Linked DNA regions of Homo sapiens: region 2 is linked to region 1. Evidence: fine-mapped expression QTL. A gene starts in region 1. The other region holds a variant in brackets. All regions are shown on one strand. Distances are between the middles of the regions. Region 1 holds the start of PDE7B (phosphodiesterase 7B). Region 2 overlaps PDE7B (phosphodiesterase 7B).

Region 1 (5,493 bases):
CTCTTAGCTTCTACATTTAGATGTTTCAAAGTCTGTTCTGATCCTTAAATTTGACACTTCTCTTTAATATAAACAAAGCCCTTTTAGTATTCTTTGGGATTAGCTTACCACTTAATAAATTCCTTCCAACACTATCTTCTGTGAGTCAACAAACAGCTTCCTCCTGTGATTTGGGCCTGGCTAACAACAAGTTAGACTTCAGACGAATAATTACTAGGCTGAGGCATTTTCCAGGTGGTACATTCCCACTTTGAGGAAACTTGGTCATTTTACTTTTGCATTTAAGATGTCCTTAGGCTGAAAATAAAGTGTCAGTGTTTGAAATGTCCTTCTCTGTATCATTGACTTGATTTTTAGATAATATTTCAGGCTGGACTGACACCAAAAGTGCTTTTCAAAAACACATGAAAAGACCAAAATTATTTAAATAATTTACAATATATGAAAGGTAGTAAATTCTAGGCAAACATTTTAACTAGGTTTTTATGGAGAACTGACAGTGAGTAGCTTTGTGCTGAACCCTGTGTAAGGCATTAAATGATGCACTCGTGTAATTATTTTCCCTAAATTAATGCCTGTCCCTGACACATCTTAGACTTTTCCACCCTTGCCCTAAATAACTTAATTAAAAAAAAAAATTCTCCCAGCTAATTTGCTGACATATAGTCACCACTGATTTTGTCACATGTTGTTCAAGAGAGTGAGTACATTCTGAAATTAGACAGCTTACAGTGTCAGGTAAAAATTCTTACAAGGCAGAGACAGTTTTTGGAGTTGCAACTAGTTAACTGTGGGCTTCTACTTGAGACAAAAGTGACTTCATTTTATTGGAGAAAATGTCAATCAAGACGTAACTACTGACACCTGTCTTTGTTTCACCAGCCAGTAATAAAAGATAAAGCAGAGGAAATGGAGGAGCTGCAGTTATGCGTTTGCAACACACAAAGTCCTTGTTTTCCCACTAGGCGCTGCAGAAAAGCAATTGTCCATTCACGGCACATCCTCTGCATTTCAGAGCTAATATTTTTGCAGTTCTTAACTTAGTACATTCCAGTCTTATGCAGTTAATTTTTTTAACCCTTTGAAATACACCTCATGTTTGAAATCGTGCTTAATATTACTGCTAACATGACCCAGTTTTAAAGCTTTCAGGTTCTCAATGTTGAGAATAGAAACTTTAAGAAAATCGGTTAGAAATTTTGGAACAGGGTAAGGATTTCAAATAATCCTGTCTTATTTGCTATTGCATAACTTTGAGAAGGGTAATAGGGAAATCCATGGTAACCATATATTACTTAAATTGCTGTTACAAAAACCGACTCTTTGGATAGGAATGATTTTTAGCAGGGATCCTCCTTAAGACATAATAATGTGCCACTGAAAACAACATTAGCCCTGTATTGAATTGCCAATCTTCCTGCAGCATTTAGTGTGTTTACTGTATATGAATGCCTATGCCTGTCTCTGGTGCAAAGAGGTTTACTCTTATTGCAATAGTCACTCTGGCTAGAGCACATGAAGAACAGAATTTTTAAATGATTAATTAGTCCCCAGGCTCAATCACTTAAGCCCCTAATTGAATATCTGACTCCATTTTCAACTATTGTAGGAAAAGATAATTAGCAAATTTGCAGTGGTAATAAAGAAGTTTTACTTTCCTTTATAAATAATAATATCTAAATTTCTGGTCATGTAACTTAGTACTTGCATCTCTCCTGGACTTCTGAATCCAAAACATTTTTTGAAAAATGCAACAAGGTGATGAAGGATTTTTCTTCAGAGCTCATTTTTTGGACATCTTCTATTGATTTTTTTCTACCTTCAGTCTCACTATCAGCTTCTTCCCTTCTTGCCACTAATTTCTTCATCTTGAAGTCTGCTATCAACCAACATGAAAAACTCAAGAAAAAAACTAATTTCCTTCTTCCCTGTTCCACAAACCTTACCAATCCCTTTACCAGCATTTTCCTATCCTGTCCCACCAAAAATGAAAATTACCCAACTCCAAGATTTATGTTGGAGAAAAAAAATATTGCATTCTTTATTTTTTTTTTTAAAGACCACCTCAGTGTGGGCTCAAAGTGCAGTGAAAATGCCGGAGTCTCATTACACTGGTTGGAATGAAACCCTGCTGCCCTTAAACGGTTAATTCAGGGTAAGTGATAATGTTTAGTCAGTTCGCCTAGAAAAAGGAAGGAAATTCAAAAGCTGGTTGCTGTAGTAACAATCACAGACAAAAAACATATATATGTACAGGTTCATTTTAAATAAAAATCCTGCCATCTCTCTGTGACTCTATTCTCTCAAGAAAACTGAGCTTGCCGCTTAAATTTGTTGTACATACCTCAACCATTAAACAAGACATTTAACCATAGTGGCAGTTCTGTGACCTTTGAATGCCGTGAAATCTCTGAGCGGTGCTGCTTGTTCATGAAGACTTGTGCTGCAGAATCCAGCAACTTCATCCAGGATTAGGAATATAATTAAGTAACAAAAAAAAAAAAAGAAAAAAAAGGAAAAGAAATAAAGAAACACAAAAGCACACAAGGAGATCGAGAAAGAAGGAAGGTAGAAAGAGAGACTCTCCCTGGGTGAGTAACACCACTTTTCTCCCAGACAAGTGCTGGGACAGAGCCGAGCCTGCTGCAGTGCCCAGACCAACTGACTGGCTGGGTGAGCAGCCGCCGGCCTGCTAGGCTGGGAGGTGCTGTCAGTTGCCACAGGCAAGGAAAAGCAGAGACCAATCGGCTTCAACTCTGGCAGCTTACTGGAGTGGAGCCTTTTCTGTTTATGTTTCCTCATTTCAAGAGTGACGTCAAAGGGTTTAGTTTTTCCTCTGCATGTGCTATTAATTTTAAAGTACTGTACTATGGGAAGAATGTGTGTGTGCCTGTGGTCAGCCTGGGCACCCCACTCTCAGGAGAGCCCAAGAAACATTTTCTATATTCGGGAATACATTTAAAGAATTTAAAATACCTTGTGGTGAGGTGTATAAAAACAAAAGCAAAACAAAACAAAAATTAAATATAAAACCCTGAGCTAAATCATAGCAGCAAGATGTAGATTTTTTCCATCTGTGAGTGTATGTGCTCCATGCTCACTTGGCAGCTGTTGCTTATTTTTTTTTACCTAATTCATTTTTACTCTTACCTAAAAATGAGTTGTTAATTAAACTTGATAGCCATAGAGGCAGAATCGTACAAATGCACTGGTGAACAAAATGATGTGCAATGAAACATAGAACTCCTGTGTCAGTTTGTGCCATGGGTCCCTGCGTTTCCTCCAGCTTCCGTGGTGAAGCCTCAGGCTTGTTCCTGCCAGGGAGATGCCTCCTGATGCCAGCAGGAGTCATTCAAGAAGCAAGGCTATGGTGATGCCATGCAGGTGTGCCTGGGGCCTCAGCTTGTTCTTTCCCAAAGAGTATGAAGGTCCAGTTATTTAGGGATACTTCCTTTACCAGGGACCCCAGCTTATCCCTGGGTTACACTTCCCACTCTGGAAAAATCCCCATAGTTGCCATCTGTTGTTTCTGCCTCCCCCACATCCTCCTCCTTTTCCCCATCCCCATCCTAAATTCTGCTAACAGACCTTTTTTGGGTGGGCGGTGGGCGGAACTTTCCTTCCTCTATCTTCTATGGATTGCATGGACTTTGCCCCCAGCCCCATTCCCACGACAGAGCCACAAGGGGGCATGGGACCCACAGGGGCCAATCAGATTTCTCCATTGCTCCGAGGCAGACTATGTTTTAGGGGTGGGCGCAACACTAAAGAATGTCCACATTCCTTTTTCAAATACTAATATTGTTTCTTTGAGAAAGAAAGTATTTATGTATCCCTAAGAGCCTAGGCGCTAGGATTAAGCATCCCTGTAGTTGTTGGGGTTTATCTTTGGTGTTGAAGCTACAATAGTGAACAAAACAGATGGTTCTTTGCCCCCATGGAGTCTACATTTTGGAGAAGCAGGGAAATTGTCAAAGAAAAATAAGTAAACGTATAATGTCAGTTGGCAATGAGGGCTTCAAAATAAGGTAAGGAGAATGAGGTGTGTGTGTACACGTGCATGTGTGTGTGTGTGGTGTGTGTGCTATTTTAGGAAAGATGATCAGGGCAGCCCTCTGATAAAGCAACTTGGAGCGGAGGCCCGAATGATGGGACATAGCAGGTACTGTGTGCCTCTACCTTCCATGCAGATGAAGCCATGGAAAGGTCCCACAACACATGAGTGCTTGGCAGAGCCAAGGAACAGGAAGGGAAATAGAGTGGCTGGAAGAGAATGAGCAAAGGGAAGAAATAAGTTTCAGAAGGTATGTCTGGGACAAGATCAGGACATGTCTTACAGGCCATGCACACGACTTAGATTTTATTCCAAGGTGAAAACCTACCTATCAGAGTGTTTTGAACTGAGGAATGTCTATGATTCGACACGAATTCTGAAGAGATTTCTCTCTTTTCTCTGTGGAAGATAGACTCCTAGGGAGCAAGAGTAGAAGCAGAGAGACCAATAAATGAGGCCACTGTGCTAACCTAAGTGAGAGCACATCATGGCTCGGACTTGGGTGAGAGCAGTGGAGAAGGTGGGAGGGCCAGATTTTGGAAGGGGGCCTGTGTATTTGCAGAGAGCGTTGGCAGTATTTGAAGATGAGAGGTGTGAGAAAAAGAGAGGAATCAAGAGTAATTTCCAGGTTCCTGGCTTGGGCAAACTGGACTAGAGTTGCCATTTACTGACATGGGGAAGACTGGGAGAAGAGCCTGGTTTTGAGGTGAAATAAATAACAGTTCTGGACCTTCACTGAACAGCAACAGATATTTGATTGTGTACTCTGTACCAGGCACTGTTCTAGGTGCTGGGGAGAATGCAGTGAAAACATATAACACACATACACACCCTCCAACACGTAATTCTTTGACCCCACGAAACTTAGATTCTTCTGAAAGGAGAATGGCCATAACAACAAATAAAAAATTTATATAGGATATCGGGTGGTAATACTGTTGTGAAGAAGAAACAGGAGAGGGAAGGGTCACTAGTCAGATAGAGGCTTGCAATTTTAAAGTGAGTATGCAGAGAAGGTGCCACTGCAAAGATGATGTTGGACACAAAGGGGAAGTTGATGAGGGAGGCATAGGGAGAGCATTTTAAACAAGAGGACATTAAGTGCAAGGCTCTGGGGACTGGAGTATTTGGCTGGTAAGTAGTAGGATATGGCAATGGGTGCAGAGGTGACAGATCAAGGAGAGTTTTCTAGGTCATTGTAAGGACTTTGGCTTCCTGTCTGCATGAAACAGGGCTTTAAGGAGAGGAATGAGGCAATCTGACTTACTTTTTGACAGGATCGCTCTGGCTACCATGTGGAGGTCAAGGTAGAAGAGAGTCTAATAAACGATATATTGCAATAAACAAGCCAGACATCCTAGTGGTGTCTACCACGATGCTTTGGTGGAGGTGGCTAGAAGTGGTTTACTTCCAATTATATGTTGGTGTTAAGGACAATA
Region 2 (5,000 bases), 190 kb before region 1:
GGTTGTATCCACTGTCAGAAACACAGTGAAGTTCTCCACAACCGTCCCAAACACAGCACATTCTTATGACAAGACAAAGTCCCTGGGAATCATTATTTCCACATTTGTGAGTGAGTTGATATCAATAAAGGTGTTTATATTGCTGACATTTGCCAAAGGGGAAACCAAGTCAAGAAAGTTTACCAACTTGCCCAGGACATAAAAAGCTTGCATGCCAAACTCAGTGCTGGGAACATAATACATGCTGTAAATGGCATAGTTAAAAATTGGAAAATGTATTTTACTTTATAGAAAGAATGATAAAAAGCCACCCAAGGAGAATATTCTCCTAGGGATATCTCTAACTTGTTGACAAGAAATGTTAGAGTCAGGATGGCCATTAAAGAGCATCCAATTCCACCCCCTCCTTGGTGGGGACTGAAACTCAGGAAATTTGGCTTGTGCAAGCCCAAAGGGCAAGCATTTGTCAAGCTGAGTCCAGGACCCAGGTTTCTTGATTTCCAGTCAAATGCTCCTCCTACTAAATCACTCTTAATTTCAAGATGCATTTCTATCATACAGCAGACATTTGGAAGTCACAGCCCTCAGACCTGATGCTACACAGTTCATTTTCCTCCCTATGGCTTGGACTCTACAAAGAAAGGGAGTTAGTTATCAGACTTGGTCCTGTGACCTATTACACCCCATGGTCAATTTACCTGGAAAGCTGCGGAGAGCATCTTCATTGTCCAGAATGCCTCTCTGTTTGGTCGCCTGCAGCTCACTTTTGGATTTCCAAACCAGCTTTACCATCCTGATCATCTCTGGCAAGTCCCAGGGCAGCGGCCCCTGCTGGCACCCCGGCCGGCTTCCCGGGGAGGAGGGCAGCACACCTTCTGGGCCTGTCCACCTCCTGCCTAGCTCTGCTGGGTGGAAATATCGCTCTAGCACAGGCATTCTGTCTTGTGCCCCAGAAGAGGAGGTAGTGGTGGTGGTGGTGCTGCTGCTGCTGCTGCTGTTGCTGCTGCTGCTGTTTCTGCTTCTGCTGCTGCTGCTGCTGCTACCACAGGGGAAATTCTTCCCAGGCAGGGAAAAGCGAACCCCCGTAAGATCCTCTCCAGCTTCGGAAAGACAAGCCTCCTCCAGCCTGGCACAACCTCCCTGTCTCTTCAGGCCCTCCACAAACACTGCCGACGAGAGCGATTCACTTCCCTAGGTTTCTCTCTGGTGAGAAACTGTTACTGTACTCCTTCCTTAGAGATAGAATGCATTTTTTTTCCCCTCCTCTCTCTGGCACTGAGTTCACAGCACTTAATTAATCCCAGGCTACAGCTGGAACGACAGCAGGGAGAAAAAAAAAAGCCATCGAGGTTCTAGCATTTGCTTTTCCTCTTCTTTCTTCTGATTTATTTGTTCTCAATTCTCTTTTGGTGCTTGTCAAAGTTTGTTGACTCTTAGCTCTTTGTCGGCTTAGCTCTTAAGGACTTCAGGCAAAGAAGCGGGGCTTCCCCTTTGCTAACCTCACAGAGGGGCTCCCCCCTTGCTGGAGGCCAGTTATCTGGAGGTGTCAGGTGAGGAGTCACCCCTGTGGTACAGGCTCAGGCCTGCAAGCCCCAAGGAGTTCTCAAAAAAACAGAGGAAGCTGAGAGTCTGCAGAGCCAATCTGCAGCTGCTTCTCTCTGGAGGGCCTGATGGGGGTTGGGGGGCACCTTGCCCAGTCACCAAGACCAGTGCTGGGATGGGCTTGGTTGATCCTCAGTGCCTCAGTTTGATCACTCTCGCTCCTTCTCCACATCCCTCCCCCTTGTGTCATTTGGTTCTCGGCAAACCTATCTGGGTTATGACCTATTAGTCAAATCCCTTCATAACCTCAGCTGCCCTTCAGCTGGAAGGGAAATAACATTGAATCACATTCCACAGTTAACTCCGAAAGATGCGAATTCGGGAAGCATCAAGATCCTCATGCGTATGGGCAGTGGCCTGCATAGCCTGGATATGTGGCTCAGGCTCATTCAAAACCCATTTTCAAAGGAACAAGCATTTTAAAGGATGTTCACAGGGGACATAAATGGCAATGAAAGAAAGAAAAGAATGTTAACAATTCACCTTCTGGAGGGAGAGCACTGTTGATTTATTATGTGGGCCACTGACTACTGTGTCCCCGACCTGAGAGTGGTTGAATCGAGGGCAACATCAACTGTGGGCCATGCCTCTTGTTCCTAGTCTCAGAGATGGAGGCGCTAACCCTGAAAGTAAGAACCAATTCAACAAAAGGCGATGCCCCCTGTAGCTTATGTGAAAGGCCTTGGACAGAAACGAAAGTAGGGTAGT[T/A]TTGTATTTGGCACTTTTGCCAGCAAATTGGGTTTGTAGGAACAATTTGAACTTGCACATTCAAGTGAATAGCCCCTGTTTTCTTGGAGAACATTGTAACAATCCCATCTTCCTCTCTTCACGTCTCCACATTGCAAAGTGCTTTATTTTGCTTGGCATGCCATTTTGCTGGTGTATAATCTGTTGCTTCTGCTCTACATTCCTTTCAAGGCTGGTTTATCACACAATTATTTGATATTTCTTCATGGGAGAGAGGAGGAAACTTGGGGAAGAGGAGAAAGATCGTTGTAGAGTGTGTTTTATTTTCATTACTCCCACCTCATTTCTTTTTAAAGTTGAAACCAGCAAAGACAACTGTAATTTTATTGTTGTTTTATTATTTCTCTAAATCCATGGTTAATAAGTTTAGTTTTCCATACTGGATTAAGTGAATTTTCTTTTTTCTGGATGGAAAAGCATACTGGCAAACCTACTCTCCTTCCTAACAGGTGAAGAAGGGGCAAGAGGGTATAAAACAATAATAAAGACATTGAAGACACTGCTTTTGGTGAATTTTGTTATGAAAATATTGATCTAGCAGCTCTTTCTATAACAACCAGATATACATACAACACAATTAGGGAATAATCAGCGGTCTACTTGATTAGAAAGATGTGCCCTTCCTTTTTCCCTCTCTGATAAGAGATGAAAGGATTTCACCATCAGTTCAACACTTCCACCACTTTGACAGCCCGTCCAGTCCTTATCTTACCCTTCCATCAGGCTGGGGGCATCAAGACTCTCTAGGATTGAGATGATTTTATTTAATAATCACATGTAGACTGTTTGCTTTATTATCATATTTCCTGAATAATGTCTTAAACTCACTCCTCAGTCACAAACTTCCTTGACATAACAACTGAAGAGTTTCCTAAGTGTTTGACTATTTTTATTTTTGTTCAGTTATTTTGCAATAGTACTTAGCATCAGGATATCCTGACCCTTGGAACAAAGGGGTTAAGAACAAAGAAAACAAATATGTGATATCATATATCACATACACTAATGTACTAAGAACACAACACTTCATTGTTCATTTCTTCAAGAATGACTTTTTAAAAAAAATCCAAGGATATACATTTCCATTGTATCCTCTGTACTATTTTATCTAGTTCCTTGTAAAAATATCTTAGAGAAATTACAAAATGTTGGATCACTGAGCACGAATACTTCCTAGTGGAGATGAGTCAGGGCCAAGCCATCACCATTTCACATTTTCATTCCCAAGGAGGAACCTACTTCATTTGAAGGTTTGAAACCTGGAAATATTTGCACAATTTAAAAAAAGTTCCCCCAATATGGGATTATTTTCATCCTGGAGTATAAGGGCAAAAATACCACAAGAAAGGTCATTCTCATGGTATTTCTGGCTCACATAGAAACAGGAAGTACAGGAAATCTTGCGAGAAAGCTTGGCTCGGAAATTTTTGGCTCAACTGCAGGTTCAAGAGATTGGGACAAACTGATGCGAGGCTAGTACTTGCTGGACTAAAACCTCTCTACCATGTGAATTATCTGAAAGGTGGTTTTGTTACATTTCGTAGCTAACATCTCATAGGCTGGGATCTCTTTTGTTTTTCAGATAGTTACTTTAGAAGAACATGCCTGTAAACCTATAATTTTCACTACTCAGTGGACATCATTCATCTTGATATGGTATCTGCAGCCAGAAGTTTGGATCACTGAGGGTGGGGAAAGGGTGGGGTTGTTATGTGATCAAAGGAATCATGGAACAGAGAAGACCCATCTAGGTAACTTGTGAGGATTCTTACACATGTTAATATCAGTAATTAATGGGTTGCAGACAGGACATTTTAAGATAGATTTTCAAAATAACCAAGTTCTTTTTCAGGCATTGTGAATCAACCCAAAATAATGAGAACTAACAAAGTCAAAACAGCTTGTTCCAATGGACAATGGACACCTACTTGTATCAAAAAGACTTTGCTGTTCCTGGAAGTACTGTTACTTGTTGAGGGTGTGATGGCTTCATGGCTTCGAGGTTACTTTGAGGAGCTGGGGTGCCGGCTGTGCGGGCCCTGAGGGCCCAGGGTCCCTGAGGGGTGGTTGAAGTGCACTCCAATGCATCTGGAGGTGATGTTCTTACTGACAATGAGCAGGTGACTGGGTTGGAGAGGGATATCATGATGGCTGCACGGAAGGGACTGGACCCATATAATATACTACCCCCAAAGGCAGCTTCAGGTACCAAAGAGGACCTTAATTTAGCCCCCCTCCTTCACCAGCAGTGGGCAGCATCTGTGAAGAGAATAGTGCCATCATCTGGTTTTGGCTGGACAAAGGTGAGCCCCGGTGATGCCCTGACTGGAAACTATTACAAGCTGCCCCACCAGTGGGCCCACTGAGCCCCTGCACTAAGTTACTCAAAATGTGCTAAAAAGTTTCTTCTTTTTAATAAAAACTAGCCATTGCATTGGCTCCTTCTTCCAAAAACTAAAAATAAAAAGACTTTGCTTTGTGGTTGGAGCTATAAAAGAATTGATAACCCCGATACTAAAGTATACAACCAAGAAAAGTGTCAAATATATAGTTGATTTAGAACCTGGATTATGTTGAAGAATTTTTGGTGTTCTGAGGGCTATGTAAAAATCTTGTAGACTATGGGTGCTCCAGTCACTAGGCAGATAAGC

Evidence for each region. PIP is the estimated chance that this variant, and not a neighbour inherited with it, causes the effect.
Region 2: its variant is fine-mapped to the expression of PDE7B in testis (GTEx, PIP above 0.99).

Annotation. Positions count from the first base shown.
Region 1 is chr6:135,848,871-135,854,363 of GRCh38, reverse strand. PDE7B (phosphodiesterase 7B) reads right to left here and starts at 2,663. Exons shown (of 13, transcript NM_018945.4): 1 at 2,345-2,663. The coding sequence starts at 2,365. It overlaps LOC101928373 (a long non-coding RNA gene), which reads left to right. Exons shown (of 3, transcript NR_187609.1): 3 at 1-328. RefSeq lists a silencer at 2,639-2,876.
Region 2 is chr6:136,034,227-136,039,226 of GRCh38, reverse strand. All of the region lies in intron 2 of PDE7B (phosphodiesterase 7B), which reads right to left. It also overlaps the pseudogene COX5BP2. Among named protein-coding and RNA genes, the nearest start is that of PDE7B-AS1, 36 kb to the left of the region's middle. RefSeq lists enhancers at 422-922, 923-1,423. The variant T/A (reference allele first, on the strand shown) is at 2,311.